Regions from separate parts of the Homo sapiens genome. Here region 1 is linked to region 2. The links come from fine-mapping of genetic effects on gene expression. Tissue or cell type: visceral fat. Region 2 holds a variant in brackets; the other region holds the start of a gene. All regions are shown on one strand. Distances are from middle to middle.

Evidence for each region. PIP is the estimated chance that this variant, and not a neighbour inherited with it, causes the effect.
Region 1: it holds the start of ZNF226, and the variant in region 2 is fine-mapped to the expression of ZNF226 in visceral fat (GTEx, PIP above 0.99).

Annotation. Positions count from the first base shown.
Region 1 is chr19:44,162,460-44,167,608 of GRCh38, forward strand. It overlaps ZNF226 (zinc finger protein 226), which reads left to right and starts at 2,641. Exons shown (of 6, transcript NM_001032373.2): 1 at 2,641-2,683; 2 at 3,298-3,348. RefSeq lists enhancers at 2,333-2,482, 2,543-2,662.
Region 2 is chr19:43,875,180-43,880,328 of GRCh38, forward strand. ZNF404 (zinc finger protein 404) reads right to left here. Exons shown (of 3, transcript NM_001033719.3): 2 at 4,831-4,957. Among named protein-coding and RNA genes, the nearest start is that of ZNF404, 6.2 kb to the right of the region's middle. The variant G/A (reference allele first, on the strand shown) is at 2,674.

The DNA.
Region 1 (5,149 bases), 290 kb after region 2:
TGCTGGGGATTGATAATACCACCTTCACATTCTTGTAATTCACTAGGAGGACTCAAGACACCCTATGTTATCATAGTCACTATGATTTATTGTAGTAAAAGATACCAAGTCAGTTGAGCAAAGGGAAAATGTGCATGGGATGAAGTCCAGAAGAAATCAGGTACAGGCTTCCAATAATCCACTCCCTGTAGAATCATTCATGATGTACTGTTTTTTCAGCATTGAAACATGTGAAATGTCTACCCAGTAAGCTCAATGGAGACTTAGTGCCCTAGGCACTACGTTGTGTTTTGTTTTGGAACTGGTCACATAGGCCAGCTTGGGCCAAAATTCTAGATTCCCAGAAGGAATTCAGCATAAATCACATTATACAAATAGCCGGGGCATGGTGAGCCACTCTCATCAGAGAATTGTGGAAATCCTCCTGAAATTCAAGTTCCCAGATACCAGTCAAGGGCTAACCTTATATCTTGCGCTGCTATAACAGAATACCACAGATTAGGTAATTTATAAACAATATAAATTTATCTGTCATAGTGCTTGAGGCTGGGAAGTCCAAGGTCAAGATGCTGGCAGGTTTAACATCTGGTGAGGGCTGCTGCTGTCTGCTTCCAATATGGCATCCAGTTGCTGCATCCTCTGGAGGAGACAGATGCTATGTCCTCATATGGTGGAAGTGATGAAAAAGCAAGAAGGGATTAAGTTTTAACAAGGGAACACCATCAAACTATAGCATGTTGCAAGCAGGCCTTTTAAGTACAACAGTCTCAGGCCTATGTTAACTCTTTTCTGAACAAAGGGCTTCAGAAATCCAGTACCTATATTCTTTTCTTTCTTTTTCTTTCTTTGTATCACCAGATACCACATTAGGTCATCTTCCTTCAAGGTAATTTGTAACCAAAACCAGTAGACTAAACCAAATAATTTCTTGCCCCTCTGCCCCATAACTGATAAGACTGTAGGTACAGTCTACATCTACCCTCCTCATGACCAGAGTTTTCAGGTTAGTCACAAGACAGCTGTAGAAGCTGGGAGCTATCTGGCTTTGTTTTTGGTTGGTTGTTGTTTGTTCACAGTCAAGAGGAGAGAACTGTTTCATTTGTAATATTGTATAGTTCATGTCTCCCAAAATGCATGGCTACTCTAACTCCCATTCACACACAAGATTAATTCCTTAGCTCTTACCTAGTATGCCCAGCCCTTGTGGGATCATTCAGTTTTTTCATCTGTGGGCCTAACTTGCCTGTTCATCTTTGGCCGTTGGGATTTCCCTGTCTTAGCTTTGAGTTTAGCTACATTTTAACGCTTTAGGGGATATTGTCACATAACATTTTTCTATCTTTGAAAAGATCCACAATATTATGTAATGATTACCACTATCTAATCCTAGAACTCTTTCATCTGCTCCCAAAAGAAATCCCCTACATGAGCTGGGTGTGGTGGTGCATGCCTGTAGTCTCAACTACCCAGGGGGCTGAGGCGGGAGGATCACTTGAGCCCAAGAATTTAAGGCTGCAGTGTGCTATGATCATGCCTGTGAATAGCCACTGTACTCCATTCTGGGAAACATAACAAGACGCTGTCTCTAAAAAAGTAAGAAAAAAAAAACCCTACATATTGACAGTCACTCCCCATTCCCAACTACATCTCCCCAGCCTTGGAGACAACTAATTTACTTTCTGTCTCTATGGACTTGCCTATTCTGCACATTTGATATAAATGGAATCATACCATATATGGTATCTTGTGTCTGGCTTCTTTCATTGGACATAATGTCTTCAGAGTTCATCTATGTTATAACATGAATCAATATTTTGTTCATTCACATTACTAAATAATATTGCATTATATGGCTAGACCACATTTTGTTTATCCACTCATCAGCTGATGGACATTGGGTCTTCTCCACTTTTTGACTATTATGACTAATGCTGCTATGAACTTTTTTAGAACAAGTTTTTGTGTGGATATCTTTCAGTTCTCCTGGGTATTTACTTAGGAGTGAAATTGCTGGCACATAAGCCCCAGATCGGGTGCCAGCAGATTCAGTGTCTGGTGAGGTCCCGCTTTCTAAGTCATACATGGTCCTTCTGGCTGTGTCCTCACATAACTAAAGAGGCAAAGGAGCTCCCTCAGGCCACTTATAAGAGAGCATTAATCCTATTCATGAGGGCATTGCCCTCTTGATCTGATCACGTCCCATAGGTTCCACCTCCTAATATCTTCTTGGGAGTTAGGATTTAAACATACGAATTTGGTGGGGGCCATAAACACTCAGACCATAATAATACCTAAAGAGAAGTGAGGGATTCTGGGAAATGAAAACCAGGAGCTCAAGGTAGTTGGACACTTCCACATCAGAAGGCTTGGACATTCCGGAAGTGTAGTCCAGGAGGGCGGTACTGTTCTGTTTTTCCCCCAACTCCAGCATTCTGTGATATGTAGTCCGGAGTTCCGTGTAGTCGCGCATAGCTCAGCTGCAGTAAGGCTGTAAATGTTTCCCCTGCGGAATCCTGGGAACTGTAGGTCCAATCGTTCTAGGTAGTTGTAGGCACTTCCGGCTCGAGGAAGGCAGTGCTGTGGAATTCTGGGAAGCGTAGTCCAGGTCCTCCTGATACTCGCAGGCACTTCCGCCCAGGAAGACGACGTAGCAGCCATCTTTTCCCTGGCTTTGGTGATTCAGGTCAGCTTCTCAGGAACCTTTCAAACTTCCCCGAAATGCACTTGTGGTCAGCAGCTAGCGGTCTTTTGTTTGGGGAAAAAAAGGAGTAGCGGCTAAGAGCGGAGGTTTGAGGGGCCAGGATGCTGTTTTGCGTTTCCCTGGGCGGAGCTTGTTAGAATTGGGGGCGTACTGGCTTCGGGCGGCTGGGGTGATGCTTCGTCGGGTTTGAAGGTCTCTCGGGCTGTTCGCTCCCTCATTGTGACTCCCCCACCTAATGAGCCAGCCCTACCACTTCATACAGTATCACATTGAGCGAGTTAGTTAATCCCCGTGCCTTCGTTTGCTGTTCTGAAGGAAAATAAAAGCAAAAACTTCCTAATAGAATGTTTTGAGAGAAAACGAGGTAATACAAAAAGTGTAAAACTGCCTGGCACGTGAATTACCAATACTACTGTAATTTTCCTAGAAACTCCCGTTCTGTGGCGAAATTCTGTGAGTCCATGAAGCTGGATTGTCCCTGACCTCTTTTGAGGAAGGAGAGGGTTGCTTCTAACTGGTCCTGGGAGATGCCACTGTGATGTATCCGGGATGAAGACACAATCCTGGTTACTTCATAGCCTGTTTTTCTTCCCCAGCCCTGACTTCTCAAAAAGCACTGCACAGAGGAGGAGGCAGCAGAACCCCATGTGAGTAAGACTTGTTGTTATTCTTGTTTTATTCACATAAATCAGAGAATGTGTGGGGTCATGTATTTGGGCATGAGAAGTGATTATAATTTAGCGTTAGTTGCTAAGTTCCATTCTAAGGGGTTTATACAAATGAACACCTTTCCACTATACAGTGGCTCTGTGAAGTGATACTCTTTTTCCGAGGAGACTGAGACATAAGAACATAACTTGTTTGCTCATAGCCACCTAGCTAGTAGGAGGCAGAGCTAGCATTGAAACCGAGGCAGTCTGAGTCTAGACCTGAGTCTTCTTTGGTATGTTCTGCATGAGCCATAGGCAGCTGGCTAGTATCATGTGAAAATAGGTTGGGACTTCACTGTGGGGACTTTGCTCAAGGTCTGGGCTATTCTATGACTTTTAAAAAATAGTGGCTGGGCACAGTGGCTGACGCCTGTAATCCCAGCACTTTGGGAGTCTGAGGCGGGCAGATCACTTGAGGCCAGGAGTTTGAGACCAGTCTGGCCAACATGGCGAAACCCCATCTCTACTAAAAATACAAAAATTAGCCAGGCGTGGTGGCCAACACCTGTAATCCCAGGAGTTTGGGAAGCTGGGGCAGGAGAATCGCTTGAACCCAGGAGGCGAGGCTGCAGTAAGCTGAGATCACACCGGTGCACTCCAGCCTCGGCAACTGAGCAAGACTCTGTCTCAAAAAAAGAAAAGAGTTTTTAAAAATAGTTTTCTCAATTATTAGTTTTATTTGTTTCAAATAATATAGAGGTAACACATAATCATGGAAAACACAGAAATACATTTAAAAAATGTAAATTCCCCATGACCTTAGGGTATAAAGATAACAACTATAGTTTAGTGCCTTTCTGTCAAGTTTTTCTTGTATATATTTCTGTTTATTAGGGGCTGTTTTGGGAGAGGGACTGAGTACAGTGCAACACTACTCAAACTGTGGTTCACAAAGCAGCAACATTGGCATCACCCAGGTAGAAAGGCTCATTCTTGAGCCCTACCGAAGGCCTTCTGATTTAGCATTTTTGCAGATAGGACCCAGAAATCTGCATTTCAACAAGATCCCAAGGTGAGCGAGATGCATGTTAAAGTTTGAGAAGCTCAGGAAAAGGTCTTATCTGGAAACTCAGGACTAGAAAACTGACCCTGCCAGATGTCACAGATAAAACTGAGCTGGCCATACTAGAACCCTACTCAGTCCAGTGATTTTTCTTTCCCACTAAATATTAACTGTCAAGTTTCTTTGCAAAAACCATGACATGAGTAGAAGGCAGCTGTCAAGTCTAGAGTCAAAATGGAGAAACTCAGAGTCCTGAAGATCTATTTCTCCCAGGCTTTGGGGAGTAGATTCCTTCCCATCTTTTGTACTGGAGGCCTTCTGCCTGAAGTGGGAAGATCAGCTACCTATTTATTGTTAATTAACGTTAGATATTATTGCCATAGTTGTCATCATCTCGTCATCGTTATTATTCTGATTAATGACTTTCCTAATTTCTTTAACTTTTTTTTTTTTTTTTTTTTTGAGGCAGAGTTTCACTTTTGTTGCCCAGGCTGGAGTGCAATGGCGTGATCTCGGCTCACTGCAACCTCCGCCTCCCAGGTTCAAAAGATTCTCCTGCCTCAACCTCCCAAACATCTGAGATTACAGGCACCCGCCACCACACCGGCTAATTTTTTTGTATTTTTAGTAGCGATGGGGTTCCACCATGTTTGCCAGGCTGGTCTCGAACTCCTGACCTCAGGTGATCCACCCACCTCGGCCTCCCAAAGTGTTGGGATTATGGGCATGAGCCAC
Region 2 (5,149 bases):
CATGCCTCTACCACTGGTGTTCATTCTTTCCTTTGCATAGCCATGCTTTTCTGTTTCTATCTCAATCAAAGTAATCACGTGTTGCATTAATTTTTACTGTAATGTTTTAAATAATTTTTTTTTTAAATCTACAAATAATGCCTGTAAGGTTGAAGGTTTTACTTCTTTTCATTCTACACATTTTCAATCTGTTGTGTTTCTTCAATGCCTTTCCCAAATTCTACCTTCTATTCATTTAAAGCCAAGGTGGATCATTCTTGAATTCTACAGAAATGCATCTCAGTAATTTTTCAGGAATTGCACGAATTAATATATTGAAAGGCTTATCAAAGTCAAAGCAAATAAACCTGGGGATATTGGGAAAAATAAAGTAAAAAATGGGGCAAGAGTCTAGGAAACTGAGTGCCTAGTAGTTTGCAACAAAGAATATATTGGACGTAGGCTGAAGATTGATAATCTGTGTGAGGGAGCAGCCTTTGAAATCTAATATGCTAAATGGGTCAAGTATTGAAAACAAGTGGAATTCTGTGAAAAAAGTATAAATTTAAAAAGTCAAAATAATACAGATGTTATCCTCTGAGCCAATGCAATAAAGGATAAGTAGCAATATCAAACAGCCAAAACACTTCCTATTTATAAACAGAAAGTACTCAACAACTACTCTTAGGTCAAAGACAAAATACAAACTGAAACTGTAGAATTTCTTGAAGACAGTGATAATGGAGATACTACATATCAGAATCTATGGCTTTCAGTTATAATGCACCAAGGCAAACTCAAAGATTAACATGCTTACATCTAATTAAAAATAAAAGAATTAAAATGAATAAATGAAGCATTTCATTTAAAAATTAGGGAAAACAGCCAGGCTCAATGGCTCATGCCTGTAATCCCAGCACTTTGGGAGGCCGAAGCAGGCAGATTGTTTGAGGCCAAGAGTTCAAGACCAACCTGGCCAACAATAGGAAATCTAAAATTACAAAAATTAGCCAGGTGTGGTGGCACACACCTATAGTCCTAGCTCCTTGGGAAGCTGAGGCACAAGAATCATTTGAACCCAGGAGGCAGAGGTTGCAGTGAGCTGAGATTGCGCCACTGTACTCTAGCCTGGGCGACAGAGTGAGATTCTGTCTCAAAAATAAATAAATAAATATAAATAAAAATTAGGGAGACATTAGGAAAAGAATGATGGACTGCAGAAAAGAAAAATATAATACAAGCAAAATTTAAATAAAACAGTAGAATTAACACATACAAACCATTATTTCCTTTATACCTAAGGAATAAAAGATAGGAGGGAAAATCCAAATATAATGACAAGGGGGAAATGACCATCAATAAAGAAATAAAGAATGTTAAAAAAATCATACAACTGTGCTAATATATTTCAAATGTACATGAAATGATGAATCTTCCTGAAAATAAAATTTATCAAAAGTGACACCAGCTAGACTTACTGGCTGGCTTCTAGCAAACAGAATATGAAAAGGGAAAAATAATAACTTTACAGTGAAGAAAAATGACGGACATCACCTTAAACAAATTTATAAGGTTAATACCTCAGCAATAAATCATGCTGATATCATGTATTTCTGATACAATATGATGAGAAAGCTACTTCTCTGGTATTCTTCCCCAAAGCCGATAATCCCAGTTTAATCATAAAAAATTCAACAAACCCAAATTGTCCGGCACTTTTCAAAATACCTGACTAGTACTCTTCAAAAAGTATCAAGGCCAGAAAGGACAAGGAAAGACAAAGAAACTGTCACAGGTAGGAGGAAACTAAAACACATGATGGCTAAATGCAATGTGATATCCTGGATTGAATCACGGAATAGAAAAAAGGACAGTGGAAAAACTGGTACACTGAATAAAATCTATAGTTTTGCTAATAGTTTGCCTATAGTTTTGTTAACAATGTTAACTTGCTAGTTTGCATAAATGTACCATGATTATGTAAGATGTTATCATTATAGGAACCTGTGGTACCACATTTGTAACTTGTCTATAACTCTAAAATTATTTCAAAATGAAAGTAAAACAATAACAACAAATAGACTCCAGAAGAGATGGAAAATCTAAACAGACCAATTTCCATGAAAAAAATAGAAAAAAAATTTAAAATATTTTTCCCCACAAACAGCTGGTCACAATTAGTTAGCTCCCTGTTGGCCAGGCTTCGGTCTCTATATACTATTTCCCATTAATGTGAACTAGGGTGCCTTGGAGAAATAGCTAATTCCTAGTTCAGGGAGGGAAGATACAAGGCGAATCTGGAACCTCTTGTACTAAAATGCAAAGAAGCTTTTAAAGATAACAGAAAATAACTTGTGCTTTTAGTTATGAAACATTAAGAGGGATCAGATTTCCCCTTTTACTTTATTTTTATTTATTTATTTATTTATTTTTTATTATTATACTTTAAGTTTTAGGGTACATGTGCACATTGTGCAGGTTAGTTACATACGTATACATGTGCCATGCTGGTGTGCTGCACCCACTAACTCGTCATCTAGCATTAGGTATATCTCCCAATGCTATCCCTCCCCCCTCCCCCCACCCCACAACAGTCCCCAGAGTGTGATGTTCCCCTTCCTGTGTCCATGTGATCTCATTGTTCAATTCCCACCTATGACTGAGAATATGCGGTGTTTGGTTTTTTGTTCTTGC[G/A]ATGGTTTACTGAGAATGATGGTTTCCAATTTCATCCATGTCCCTACAAAGGACATGAACTCATCATTTTTATGGCTGCATAGTATTCCATGGTGTATATGTGCCACATTTTCTTAATCCAGTCTATCATTGTTGGACATTTGGGTTGGTTCCAAGTCTTTGCTATTGTGAATAATGCCGCAATAAACATACGTGTGCATGTGTCTTTATAGCAGCATGATTTATAGTCCTTTGGGTATATACCCAGTAATGGGATGGCTGGGTCAAATGGTATTTCTAGTTCTAGATCCCTGAGGAATCGCCACACTGACTTCCACAATGGTTGAACTAGTTTACAGTCCCACCAACAGTGTAAAAGTGTTCCTATTTCTCCACATCCTCTCCAGCACCTGTTGTTTCCTGACTTTTTAATGATTGCCATTCTAACTGGTGTGAGATGGTATCTCATTGTGGTTTTGATTTGCATTTCTCTGATGGCCAGTGATGGTGAGCATTTTTTCATGTGGTTTTGGCTGCATAAATGTCTTCTTTTGAGAAGTGTCTGTTCATGTCCTTCGCCCACTTTTTGATGGGGTTGTTTGTTTTTTTCTTGTAAATTTGTTTGAGTTCATTGTAGATTCTGGATATTAGCCCTTTGTCAGATGAGTAGGTTGCGAAAATTTTCTCCCATTTTGTAGGTTGCCTGTTCACTCTGATGGAACTACCCTGGAGGCTCTGGCTGAGTACTGATATGAATTTACATGTGAGCAAACTAATGAGGCAAAGGAAAGCACCACCATATAGGGGTAGGCAGAACAATACCTGAAAGTCACCAAGGGTAGTTAGGGGATAGTTCCTGTTTCCACCAGCCAGGAGTGGTAAGTTGGCCCTAAGGCTCTACAACTACTTTTCCCCTGAAAAAACTCCCTGATTCTAAGTACAGCAGGAGTTAAAAGAACAGCGTTTACAAAGAGGTAGCTGAGCATTATCAAACTGAAAACCAGCAGTGACCCATTTAATTCCTGGTTGTATTACTGTCATCAGCCTGCATTCTATCAGACTAACAGAGGAAAACATAAATACCCTCTGGTGGAAGATAGCATCATCTGAAACCTCTTCAGTTATTTTATATGCAATGCCCAGCATACAATCACAACTACTAGTAACTTGAAGATGCATTAACAAATGACAAATAACAAGATTAAAAGAAAGAAACAATAAAGAAGCAGACCCCCAGATGATACAAAAAATGAGGCATAAAAGAATTAAAAAATTAACTATGATTAAAATGTTCCAAGAAAACAGATGAAAATTTAGTAATAAAAGGAAAGCAAATAAAAGAATGAAGATTTCAACAAGTATTTGGAAGTTATAAAAGAGAATTAAATTGAATTTCTGGAACTGAAAAAGACAATATCTGACATGAAAAACCCCTCTTTAGAAAACAGAATAAGTGAGCTGGAATACAGGTCAACAGGAAACATTCAAACTCCATCATATGAAAAATAGAGGGGAAAGAGAGGAGAAAAGCAGATAAGGACATGAAAAAGTTGTGGGATATGCTCAAAAGGTCTAACATAGGTGTAATTAAAGTCCCAGATGGGAGGAGAGAATGGTCACCTATCTTCCAAAAACTGAACAAAGACTGCCCCTTCTGCATGGAATCTATCAGATCACTGGAAGCCAACAGGCCAACTGCTAGAACTACAAAAATAACAGTAAAAAAGAGAATAATCTTAATTCATTCTACTACTATAAAAATTATGGAGGCTCTTTTGTGGTAAAGAGAAAACCATGGTTTTTTATGTAGGAAGATTAGCAATTAAAGTATTTACAGACATTCTGAACACACATATAATTTAAAATTTGTTTTTGCTGATAGTGTCTTTGCAGAAAAATACCAGAATTCAAACCTCTAGTCATTTAGAAAAAGAAGTAATTATAGGACAGGGCAGAGGCAGGCATAAAGGCAAGTGAAGAATAGTGAAGATTCAGGTGCTGAATGGGGGTGCCCATTCCACCTAACAAACTTCAAATATGCCCATTTCCACCTAACAAACTTTGAGAATATGGAGCAGAAATGTAGCTGGTTTCTTGGCATAGACCATAAAATATACAACAGAGAAGGCTGATATTCTAGAGAGCATATTGTACATCATTTTGTGCAGATATTCTTACCCAATGAGACCAAGTTAGTATAATTCTCCAACATCACATCTCTGTACAAATCCCTCTGATCCGAGTTTAAATATTCCCACTCCTCCTGAGAGAAGTCTATGGCAACATCGCTGAATGTCAATGGCACCTGAAATGACAAACCTGTGTATTATTTGTAAAAGTAAAGAAGACTTTTCAAGATGGAACATTAAATTGCAATAAAGGGGCAATATGTAAAAAGAAGTAGTCTAGAGTTACAAGATGATGACATGGTTAGATAAGAGTAAATAAATTAGCATGTCTTAAGTAGAGTGCCCACACAATCTTAAGGAATCCTGTT